2 separate regions of the Homo sapiens genome follow, and region 1 is linked to region 2. The links come from fine-mapping of genetic effects on gene expression. A gene starts in region 2. The other region holds a variant in brackets. All regions are shown on one strand. Distances are between the middles of the regions. Region 1 has its middle 23 kb from the start of FSTL1. Region 2 holds the start of FSTL1 (follistatin like 1).

Evidence for each region. PIP is the estimated chance that this variant, and not a neighbour inherited with it, causes the effect. A credible set is the group of variants that fine-mapping cannot tell apart.
Region 1: its variant is the best candidate, but not a certain one, in a credible set for the expression of FSTL1 in whole blood (TOPMed, PIP 0.67).

Annotation. Positions count from the first base shown.
Region 1 is chr3:120,471,102-120,476,478 of GRCh38, reverse strand. No RefSeq gene overlaps it. Among named protein-coding and RNA genes, the nearest start is that of FSTL1, 23 kb to the right of the region's middle. The variant C/A (reference allele first, on the strand shown) is at 2,821.
Region 2 is chr3:120,448,449-120,453,825 of GRCh38, reverse strand. FSTL1 (follistatin like 1) reads left to right here and starts at 2,834. Exons shown (of 11, transcript NM_007085.5): 1 at 2,834-2,929; 2 at 3,080-3,142. The coding sequence starts at 3,080. It overlaps LOC124900546 (a long non-coding RNA gene), which reads left to right and starts at 3,172. Exons shown (of 2, transcript XR_007096030.1): 1 at 3,172-5,377.

The DNA.
Region 1 (5,377 bases), 23 kb before region 2:
AACAAAATTAGCTGGGTGTAATGGCATGCACATGTAGCCCCAGCTACTCAGAAGGCTGAGGCAGGAGATGGCTTAAACCTGGGAGGTCAAATCTGCATTGAGCTATAATTACACCACTGCACTCCAGCCTGGGTGACAGAGTGAGACCCTGTATCAAAAAACAAAAGCAAAAACGAAAACAAAAGCAAATGGATCCAGGCAACCTGGGGATCGTCTTTCACAATTGCTCTTCTCTGCTCCTTTCTGAGCATCTCTCTGCTTCATGGCCTCTCTTGCTGCTGCCTGGCTTCCTCTGTGACTCAGCCCGCATAGCAGATAATGGCTTCTACCAATGCTTTCAGCTGTAAATTGTGTTTCCTCAGCTGTTAAATGAAGAACTTGAATAATACACTCCGCAAGCTCCATCTGGCTCTGAAATTTGATGGAATTCTATTAGGAGTCCTGTGCAGTGGATGACAGGTGGGATCCTGAGGAATGGAGAGCAGGCCTGTGTGAGACCCAGCTGTGCAGGAGCAGGCGCACCTCAGGAAGGTGGCCCAGTCTGACCTTAGAGTGCCGAGTGGGGATCTCTTCAGGGGCCTAGTGAGATCATGGGCTCAGCCACACTGGAGAAGAGCTGGTGACACCTGGCATCAAGGTGGGGCATCCTGAGTCTGCACCTTTAGGCTGGCACTATCCACTTATATGCTGATGATTGGCAGAAACTCCAGGTTTGTCATTGCCTATCTCTAATTAGCATCAATAATTTATTCATTCCTTCCCCTGTTTTGATAGGAAGAAGCCCCACCCCCCGGCCTTTTTTTTTTGTTTAATAAAATGAGTTATCCTGCCAACCCCCACCTAACTATTCCCACAGAGCACCTGCTTGAGGTAGGTTCAAATCAGCCCTCAAGCCACAGTGTGACTAAACACATCTATGCCCACACAGAGAGTTCAGGAAATTCAACTCCACCACCTGCCAAGACACAAAACCTCACTGTAGGCCTCTTAGCTTCTTACTGATCCTGATTTGCATCTTCTTTCTGATCCCGGGATTTGGAGCCAGCAGAAAGCCCAGGGGATTTCTTGCAGAGGCTAAGGTGGGCTTCAATGGTGGGGATATCTGTGTTCCCGGACCTGGCCTCAAGCTGGCTCCTGGTCTTCATGAAACGAAACAGCCACCTTCCTTACATGGATTCCGCCATGCACATCCCACTTGACCTTGTCTACTCCAGCCAGACTAAATTGCTTCCTGTTCATGGCTTCTCTCTTCCCTCTGGGCTTCTAAATTGCCCTTAGCCAGAAATTCCCATTCCCACCCATCCCATCATCCAGGTCCTTCACCTGGATAGCTTTCATCTGCTTATAAGATACTTCCTTTGGGACATGCTCCCTGACCCCATCTCACTGAGGTTACCCCTATGTGTTCCCACAGCACCCCTTACTTGTCATTAAGCTTCTCACTCTGGCTGGCAGTCAGCTATTTACTTTTTTGCCTCCTTCCACCAACTGGTAATTCCAAACTTTATCTTTTTTACCTACATCTCCTGTACTTAGCACAGAGTCTGGAACATGGTGGAAGCCCCATAAATGTTCAGTGATGACAGGATCAAGTGCACATTTACTCACTTTCATCACCTTCCTAGGGACCACCAGCCCCTTCCATGTTTCCTACTTTCAAACTGTGGCCCCTTTCATATTATAATGAGTATTTCATCATGAGGCATAGTGAAAAATGAGATGCTGAGTACCCTAAACACAGAAGAGGCAATGTTTTCTTAGATGAGCTGCCTTTCTTGTTCACAATGAACTAAAGAAGGTTTTTCTAGGCATGGCAGATATTCTGGGAGATTCAGGAAGGGATATAGGGAGAGAAACCAGCCTTTCCTGCATCCCAACTTGAACCCTGAAGGGAGGATTTCCAAACATTCTCCCAGCATTGTTATGGGATGACATACATTCACCCGCTCTGAGTTCCTCTCATGGCTTTATTTATCATGCTCCCATAGACTGGAAAGCAGAAGGAATTCATTTTAAGACTTCAAATTATGTGCAGCATTTGATTAAATCTATCTTGAGAAACATCACTCATTGGCCTGTCTGGAGCTATTGTTGTGTGGTTAGCTCAGCACATATTTTCCAAGCACAAAATAAAAGGGTTAATGTGTGGAGATTCAGAAGAAGTCTCTTATTTGGCACTTGTACCAGCTATGAGATGGTTCCTCAGAACCATCCCACCACTAAGCAAACCAACCCTCTCTGAAGGGTCCAAGCTACTCCCCACATCCTCAAGATTTTACAGGAGCTGTGGTGCACCTCAGGGAGGGGCTCCCACTCAGGAAGGAGGCATTTTTCCCTGCATGGAATAAGCCATGGAAAGAGTCCCAGTTCTACAGGACTGAGAATATGACTTTAAAAAAAAAAAAGCAGCATAGACATAATCACTGCTTCTGTAGAAGCCACATCATTAACTTCCAACCCCCAAGTGAGTGTCTGAGTTGGAGAAAGAGAATGAAAGAAAAATAAGGTCCTGAGGCAACAAGAAGGAACCCTTACTTGACTCTACAGAACTGACCGTGTCTGATGTGCACACGTTATATTACTCTAGACCAGTGGTTCTCAACCGGTAGTGATCTTGTCCCCAGGAAACACCTGACAAAGTCTGGAGACATCTTTGGTTGTCACAAATTGGGGAGTGCTACTGGCATCTAGTGAATAGAGTTCAGGCTATTTGAAAAGGCTTCAAAAGGGAGGATCTAACTCAGGCTTGCGGGTTAGAAAAGGCTTCCTGAAAGAGGCATATCTAAGATACACCCTGAACTACCAGTGAAAGTTAATCAG[C/A]TAAAGGATATGGTGGTTCATGGCTTTCTGGAGACTTTCCCCCTTCTTCCTTGATGTTGACCTCAGTCCAGCACATGTATGAATTCCTCACATTTTTCTGGGTGACAAGATTTAGATAAGTAGCCTCATTCTCAGCCCTGGCCTCCAATATTCCCAGCTTCTCTTCCCCATTCCCCTGCCCTACTGCTGAGGGGCCCCCTGCCTTGTCGTTGGACACCACTACATACAACCTGGGGCTCATCCTCACTCCAACACCTGCAGCTACATCAGGTGGTACCAGGTTTCCCACCTTCATCACTCCCTGCAAGAAAGTAGCCACCTCAAAAGTGCCAAAGAACCGTTATTCTAGAAACAAGTTAATTTGAGTTCATGCATTTATTGGTCTGTCCCTCACTGTTTACCTTCTTAAGCACTGGTTCTCAAATGTGGCTTCACATTAGAATCACACAAAGTTTTAAAAATGACTATGTCCCCAGAGATTCTGACTTTGTTGGTACGGGTGCAGCCTGAGCTGCAGGAGTTTTACACTCCTCTCAGATTATTCTAAGAGGCAGCAAACACCAAGGACCACAAAGCCCTGTCCAAGCATGTTGGGCCGCAACATGGAAGCAGTACACTGATGCTCTCTGGCCCCACACATGCAGCCAATGCTCTCCCACATAATCTTCCCACCTTGCCCATCTGCTCCGACTAGTCCTGCCTTGGTCCCCATGGAATTTTCCATTCATTACTCTTAATTTTGAACAGCATTATCAGTTCTCCCTTTCAACTCAGGGTCTGTTCAGTTGCCTTAATCACCTTCCCATTCCCTATATTCTATTCTACCCAAGTACAACCTTACTTCTGCTTCCCCACAACATAAGATCGTTTATCTTCTTATCACATTCCCCTATGTGTAAATTTATTGCTGCAGTGGCAATTTACCACATACTTATTGACTTAACACATAAATTTATTCTCTTACAGAAATGGGTTTCACTGGGCTATAACCAATGTGTCATCAGGGCTGTATTTCTTCTGGAGGCTCTACGGGAGGATCCATTCCCTGACCTTTTCAGCTCCTAGAAGCTGCCTGCATTCTTCGGCTTGTGGCCCCTCCCACCATCTTCAAAACTAACAGCATAGCATCTTCTAATCACTAGTTCTCTGACCTCTGCTTTGTCACTTCTCTTCCTCTTATTCAGACACCCTGTCTCCCTCTTATGAGGACCCTTGGGCCAATCTGGATAATCCAGAATAATTTTCCCATCTCAAGATCCTTTACTTAGTCATATCTGCAAAGCATCTTTTGCCATGTAAAGTAACACATTCACAGGTTTGGGAAATTAGAACATGGATATAGATATCTCTCTGGGGGTGGGGGGTGCATTCTTCTATCTACCACACCCTGTTAAGGCAGCTGTCAGCTTTGTAATCTGTCAGCTTTCAAATACCTAGAGGTTCTGAGATCTTTAAAGATGGAGACATTGTAACACTGGACTTTTTGGACCTATTTCCAGTAAAATGAGAAGGATGAATCAAGCCAGCACAGCAGGTGACGTTGGTGGTGATAGTAGTGATTTTGCACCCCTCACCCTGGGGATATCTGACAATGTCTGGAGACATATTTGGTTATCTCATGTGGTGGTGGTAGTAGGAGGTTACTACTGGCATCTAGGTGGGTTGAGGCCAGCGCATGCACAGAACAGCCCCTCTACAACAAAGAATTATCTGGCCCCAAATGTCAATAGTGTCAAGGTTGAGAAATGCCGAATTAGACCATTCCTACTCAAAAATGTGGTCCGTTAACCAGCAGCCTGAGTATGACCTAAAAGCATTTTAAAAATGCAGAATCTTGGGCTCTGGCCCAGAGCTATTGAATCAGGGTATGCATTTTAACAAGATCCTCAGGCTATTCTATACATATTAAAGTTAAAGAGCAATGGACTAGAGCAATGATTCTCCACCTGGGCTGCATATTAGAATCACTTTAAAAAAAGACAGTAACCTGAGTGTAAGACTCAGATCACAGATTAATTAAATCAGAACCTCTGGATGTTGGAAACCAGGCATTGATATTTGTTAAAAGAACTCCCGATGATTCTAATGTGTAGTCAGGATTGAGAAGCTCTGTCCTATGATCTCTGAAGCTCTGCTATTCAAAGTGTTGTTGGTGGGCAGATATAGCAACATCACCTGGGAAAATTTTAGATGCACAGACCAATCTTTTGCTCTACCCCAGAACTTTTGAATCAGAAGCTGCATTTAACAAGATGCCCAGGTAATTCCTATTCACATTAAAATTTGAGAAAAAATCCTATTTCTTTTCAAAATATAAAATACAGATTTTGCTGAGGCCATTTACCATATTCCTAAGGAGGGAACTATTCAAAATCTTGTTTAAACAATGCTCTTCTGTTTCCAAATACTGTATATTGCATGACTATATTTAGTTTTGTTATTCACAGGTAAATTACTACATTTTAAGCAACTCACAGCTTGTCAGCTTCCAGGAACAAGGCTTTCTAAACAACGTGGTGTGTGGAAAAGCACTCTCCATGGAGAGGCAGGAGTGCAG
Region 2 (5,377 bases):
AGTATCTAAATCTTCCTGAGCTTCAGTTTTATTTGGAAAACGGAAGCAATAAAAAAGACCTTTCCATTTACTGTATTTTTTAAATTTTTATTTTTTATTGTTATTATTTTTTTGAGATGGAGTCTCTCTCTATTGCCCAGGCAGGAGTGCAGTGGCACAATCTCGGCTCACTGCAACTTCTGCCTCCCGGGTTCAAGCAATTCTGGTGCCTCAGCCTCCCAAGTAGCTGGCACCACAGGTGCCCACCACCATACCCATCTAATTTTTGTATTTTTAGTGGAGACGGGGTTTAATCATGTTGGCTAAGCTGGTCTCGAACTCCCGGCCTCAAGTGATCCGCCTGCCTTGGCCTCCCAAAGTGCTGGGATTACAAGGCATGGGCCACCGTGCCCAGCCTCCTTTCTATCTATTGTGAAAATTAAATAAAATAAGAGATGTTGAATGGCTTTCATAGTACCTGGTGTATAGTACCAACTACAATTTAGATGCAAAGCCGATCATGAAATAATAATGGCTATCACATACAGAGGTCTACTACCTGCCAGGCACTTTTTATATGCATCTGCTTAAATTTCACAACTCCCTGCAAGGCATTATCACTGCCATTTGTCAGAGGCAGAAACCTAGGTTCAGAGGGCTTATTATTTGATGCAAGTCAGGCCATGCAGCTAGTAAATGGCAGTGATAGGATGGAAAGCCAGATTGGTTTGACCTCAAACCTCCTGTGCCTTCTACCATGCCAAGCTGTTGTCAGAAAAGATATGAAGGAAGCAAACTTGACGTGGTTCCTGAAAACAAAACAAACAAACAAACCCAAGCATTTTAGTAGATAAGAGGAAGGGAGGAAAGATGATACCAGATTCTGAGAGGGTGCAGTGGATCTGCAAGGGATGCAATGTATTGTGCGTTATTCGAGGGCAGAACTTTATCCACAATAGTTCCCTTCAATCCTTGCACAGTGACCAAGACAGAGTATCTGGTGCGGAACATCTATTCCCTAATCTTATTACCATAACAAGGGAGCAGGAGTAAGTTGTCTGACTGGAGAGTTTGAAAGAACTGGGGATGTGTCACTCTACCCCCTCAAGTTTGGGGAGCAGGCATGTCCCAGGAGGCACATATTTTCTGCTTTTCCATGCAGTTTAGTTTTTACACAGGCAGGTTTTCCAGCTCTGCTTGTGACTGAGTGGACATGTTCAATTCTGGGCCCGCTGTCCCTGCAGATCTAAAGCCATGGCTGCCATTCCAGCCTTTAGCAGAGACAAAGCTGACATTTTGCTCTCCATAAGTCTGACTCCTGTTGCTATCTCAGTGGATTCTGAACTTACATGGGGACCATGGGTATTATCTTGAAGCCCCCTAAAGCCACAACAGTGGGCACTCAACAAACCTTGGCAGCAGAGTGAGTATGACAAGTTCAGAGGACAACGAGGAGATGGGCCTGCTTTGAGCGGAGGAAGTATGCTGATGTAGTTGAAGAGAAGTTAGATGGACAGGGTGGGCCCAGTAATGCAGGGCTTATAAGAAAGGCAGAGTTTGGATTTGATGTGGGTAGAAGAACGCTGAAGTTTCTGAGTAGAGGAAGAACATGAACACGAGGAAGACAATGTTTAAAATAAGGGAAAGAATATGACAATGGATTGCAGTGGAGACTACAGGGGAGAGCCTGGAGTCAGAGGACAACGAAAGGAGGTTTCCAGAATTTCTGAGTGAGGGAGGATGAAGGTCTGGCCTAGGAAAGTGGACATGTGAACGGAGGCGAGGGGATGCATATGAGATCTCAGCGGCTAAACTGCCAGGCTATGGGTACAAGCCGGCTCTGAGAAAAGGAGATAGGTTTGAAGGCAACCACCCTGAAAGAGGTAGATAAGCAGGCCCTGAAGCTGGGGGAAGTGAGGCTTAGTCTTGGGCATGTGAAATCTGAGTTGCTAAGTGGATCTGCTCTCCTTACTAGTTATGGCAGGAAAGGCGCCTTAATTAGGAGCATTTTAGGGAGTTAACCCTGTCAAAGAGGTAGCACACTTTCGAAGGCCAAGGGCTGGGAAGAAGGTGGTGAAGATGGCAATCCTGAACACAGAGGCTACTTGGGATGACAGGGATGGGAGGAGGGACACAGGTGATGAGTGAGTGGGCGGAAGAGAGGAGGGGGACACCGCTCCCCGGCCCGAGGGAAGGAGGGGATGAGGCTGCCGGCAAACGCTGGACTCAGGATCTTCCCAGCAGAGCAGGGCGGCCGCCACCTCACCCGGGACAATGCACTGTAGAACCCACAGCAGCCTTCCCCACGCCGGCCGGTCTTCCCGGCCCTGCGCCCACTTCCCGGTGCCCCGCTGCCCTGCTGCCGTGACCCCGGGATGCGGGGTCTCCTCTGCCTCCCTGGGCCTCCCCCTTCAGCCATGGGGGGCGGCTCCGCTTCCTAGGCCGCGGGACGTCTTTTCCTCCAGGTTCCAGTCCCGGACCTTCCCGGGCCCCCCACGGCACCGCCCACCTGGCCACCGCCGCAGCCCGCCCGGGCCGCCGCCAGCCAGCAGCCCCTCCCGGGGTGGGGTTTCCCTTCCCCCTACCCCTTTGTGGCAGGGACCCACGGGACACCCCCTCTGCCTCCGCTCCACGTCCAGGGGGCCGAAGGGGCGCCGGACGAGGGACCGTGCGGAGAGAGGGGTTCGGCGGCGCCAGGACTCCCGCGGGCTCCCCGGAGCAGGGGTCGGAAGGAGGGGGAGCGGGAGCCGCGGGGGCCGCTGCAGCAGAAGGGGGAGGAGAATGGGGAGGAGCTGGGGGGGCAGGCAGGCGGGGAAGGAGAGGTCTTAAGGGGCGGCGAGGGGAGGTCGCATTTCCTCCGAGGCTGGCGATCGGCGGAGCTCCCACCTCCGCTTACAGCTCGCTGCCGCCGTCCTGCCCCGCGCCCCCAGGAGACCTGGACCAGACCACGGTGAGCGCAGGGCGCACGGCGCGGAGGCCGGACTCTTCGGGCGGCCGGGGGTGCTTGGGCGGCCGGAGCGAGCCTGCGGGACCCGAGCAAGTTTCCCAGGTCAGCGCGGGGCCCGGCGCCTTCAGACTCGCTCTCTTCTCTCTTCCGCAGATGTGGAAACGCTGGCTCGCGCTCGCGCTCGCGCTGGTGGCGGTCGCCTGGGTCCGCGCCGAGGTAGGCGAGGGGCCGAGGAGTCCGAACTCGGTCCCCGGGGCCTCTTGGGTCTGCGCGCTGGGCGGGTGGGCGCGCGTCCTGGGGATGCTCTCCCGGGGTGGCGCTGGGAGTTTCGGTCCTTGGGGTGTGCTGGGGTGGAGCTGGGGCAGTAATGCTGCTTACGAAACTTAAATCTTTAAAGCAGGAAAAGTAGTTCGGGCCGTAAGCGGGAGCCCCGCCGCGGCTAACATGGAGGGAGAGCGGGGAGGAGGAGAGGGGACGGGCTGGGCCGACGGGGACGAGGCGGCGACTGGAGCAGCAGCGAGTTCAAAAAGGCGCCTCAGTTCCGTCCTTCACTTCAGAGGAGACTGAGAGTAGTTGGGGACTTTTCCCTCCCAAGTCTGTCTCCTGGGGGCGGGGGCAGAGGAATCGGGATTCTTCTTTTGGGGCAAAATTAATTTTCCTTTCTCTCTTTTAAAGTGAGATCATGATTCTCTGAAATGTATTTTCTTCTTTGTGAAGTGTCCTCGGGTTTTGTGTTATCATCTGGGCAATGTAACGGCCTTTTCCCAAGTGTTCCCTGTAACGTTGCGCAAGTGTAAGAGAAGATCCATTGCTCTGCTCTTTGGGGGCTCGAGTTTCCAGTTAAAGCATTTCAGCGCTTGTTTTTTTGTACCAATTTTTTCAACTCTAACGACCTTCCTGAGACACTACAAACAAACCAACAAACTCTTTGCTCAGAAGCCGCTCCATTAACTCAAAGGTTTATGGACAGAAAATAAACAATTCTAAATTCCCCGGGCTCCAGTCTCCAGGAAAGTGAGGTCAGAAACTAAACATTTGATAATTATGGCAGGAAATATGGAAGGAATTAAAAAGCATGAGGGAGAAGAAATGGAATGCACATTACAAAAGAAATAGCTCCCTGGTGGGTGGTTTATGCTCCCTGTTTGAATTTTTTCCTTCATATTACAGTTTAACCACACCCTTAGCATCGCAGCTTGACTCTGCCCAAAAAAGTCATAAATGCATACAAGGTCTTCACAATTTTTAAAAAATACGCATTGTACTGAATTCTCATTTAATTCACTACTACGTTGTTGATTGAGGTGGAAACTCAATCAACTGTTTTTACTGCCAATGAAATAAAAGTAGCTAATATTTATTAAATATCTGCTATGTTGTAATAAAATTCCATTTTAATGACAGATAAATTGAGTCAGCGAAGGTTACCCAATGCTCTCAGCTATTAAATGCTAAGGGTGGGATTTGAACCCAAACAGTCTGGCTCCGGACCCAAGGCTCTTGACCATTAACCCACACCACTTCCAAGCACAATGGTTTAACATTTACCAAGTACATTTTTGTTTACCACACACTGGGCTGTGTACGTTACCTGCAGTTACTTCTTTTAAAGCTCCCAAACCCTGTAATGTAGGTTTTATTATCCCGATTTTACAGAGGAAGAAACAGGTTTAAGGAGATTAGGTAACTTGCCCAGGGTCATACAACTAGTTAGCTCTGAAGCAGGATCTGAACCTACCTCTCTTACCTTTGGAGCCCATCTTGAACTCCAGGTCTGCTTCTTATCCATCTGGTTTTCCAGGGTTTGCATTTGAGAGCGTATCCCCCTTCACTGGCTGATGTAGCCCTGGTTAAGAAACATTTCTCCATCCCCTGCTGTGGCCCTCAAAAGGCAGTTGCAGACCAGTGATGGATGAGGTGAATCCCTGGTTGGTTTTCCAGCAGGCTCAAGAATTGCCAGCCAGTGTGTGAAATCACTCAGTGAACTGGAATGCAAATATGAGGTGTGAGGAGGCTGTTGGTTGACTTACCAGGCTGTGTGGCCCAAGGTCTGGAATCTATTCTAGGCGGCCTGCAAGACACACACCCCTCCCAACCCCCTTCCACACAGGGAAAACTTATCCCTGGTAGGAAGTTCCCCCAGCAGCAATTTCCTGCTGGAGGTAGAAGAGCATCCAGTGCTCTCACATAATTCCCAGGCAAACTACAGGGAAGAAGGCAAAATAGAGAAGTACTGAGATGTGAAAACAGAGTGCGTTGGGGGAGAAAAGAGGCTGTGAACTCACAGTGTATGGAAATGGTTACAATGAAAAGAGTGAGGGGTAGGTATGAGCTAGGTTACATTTCATGGCTCCAGGTTATTAAGGATTATTATCTTTTAATTATTCCAACCTCCTGGTGCCTGGCCAAGTAAGATTTGGCAAGTTTTTAATCCATTTAATAATAATATAC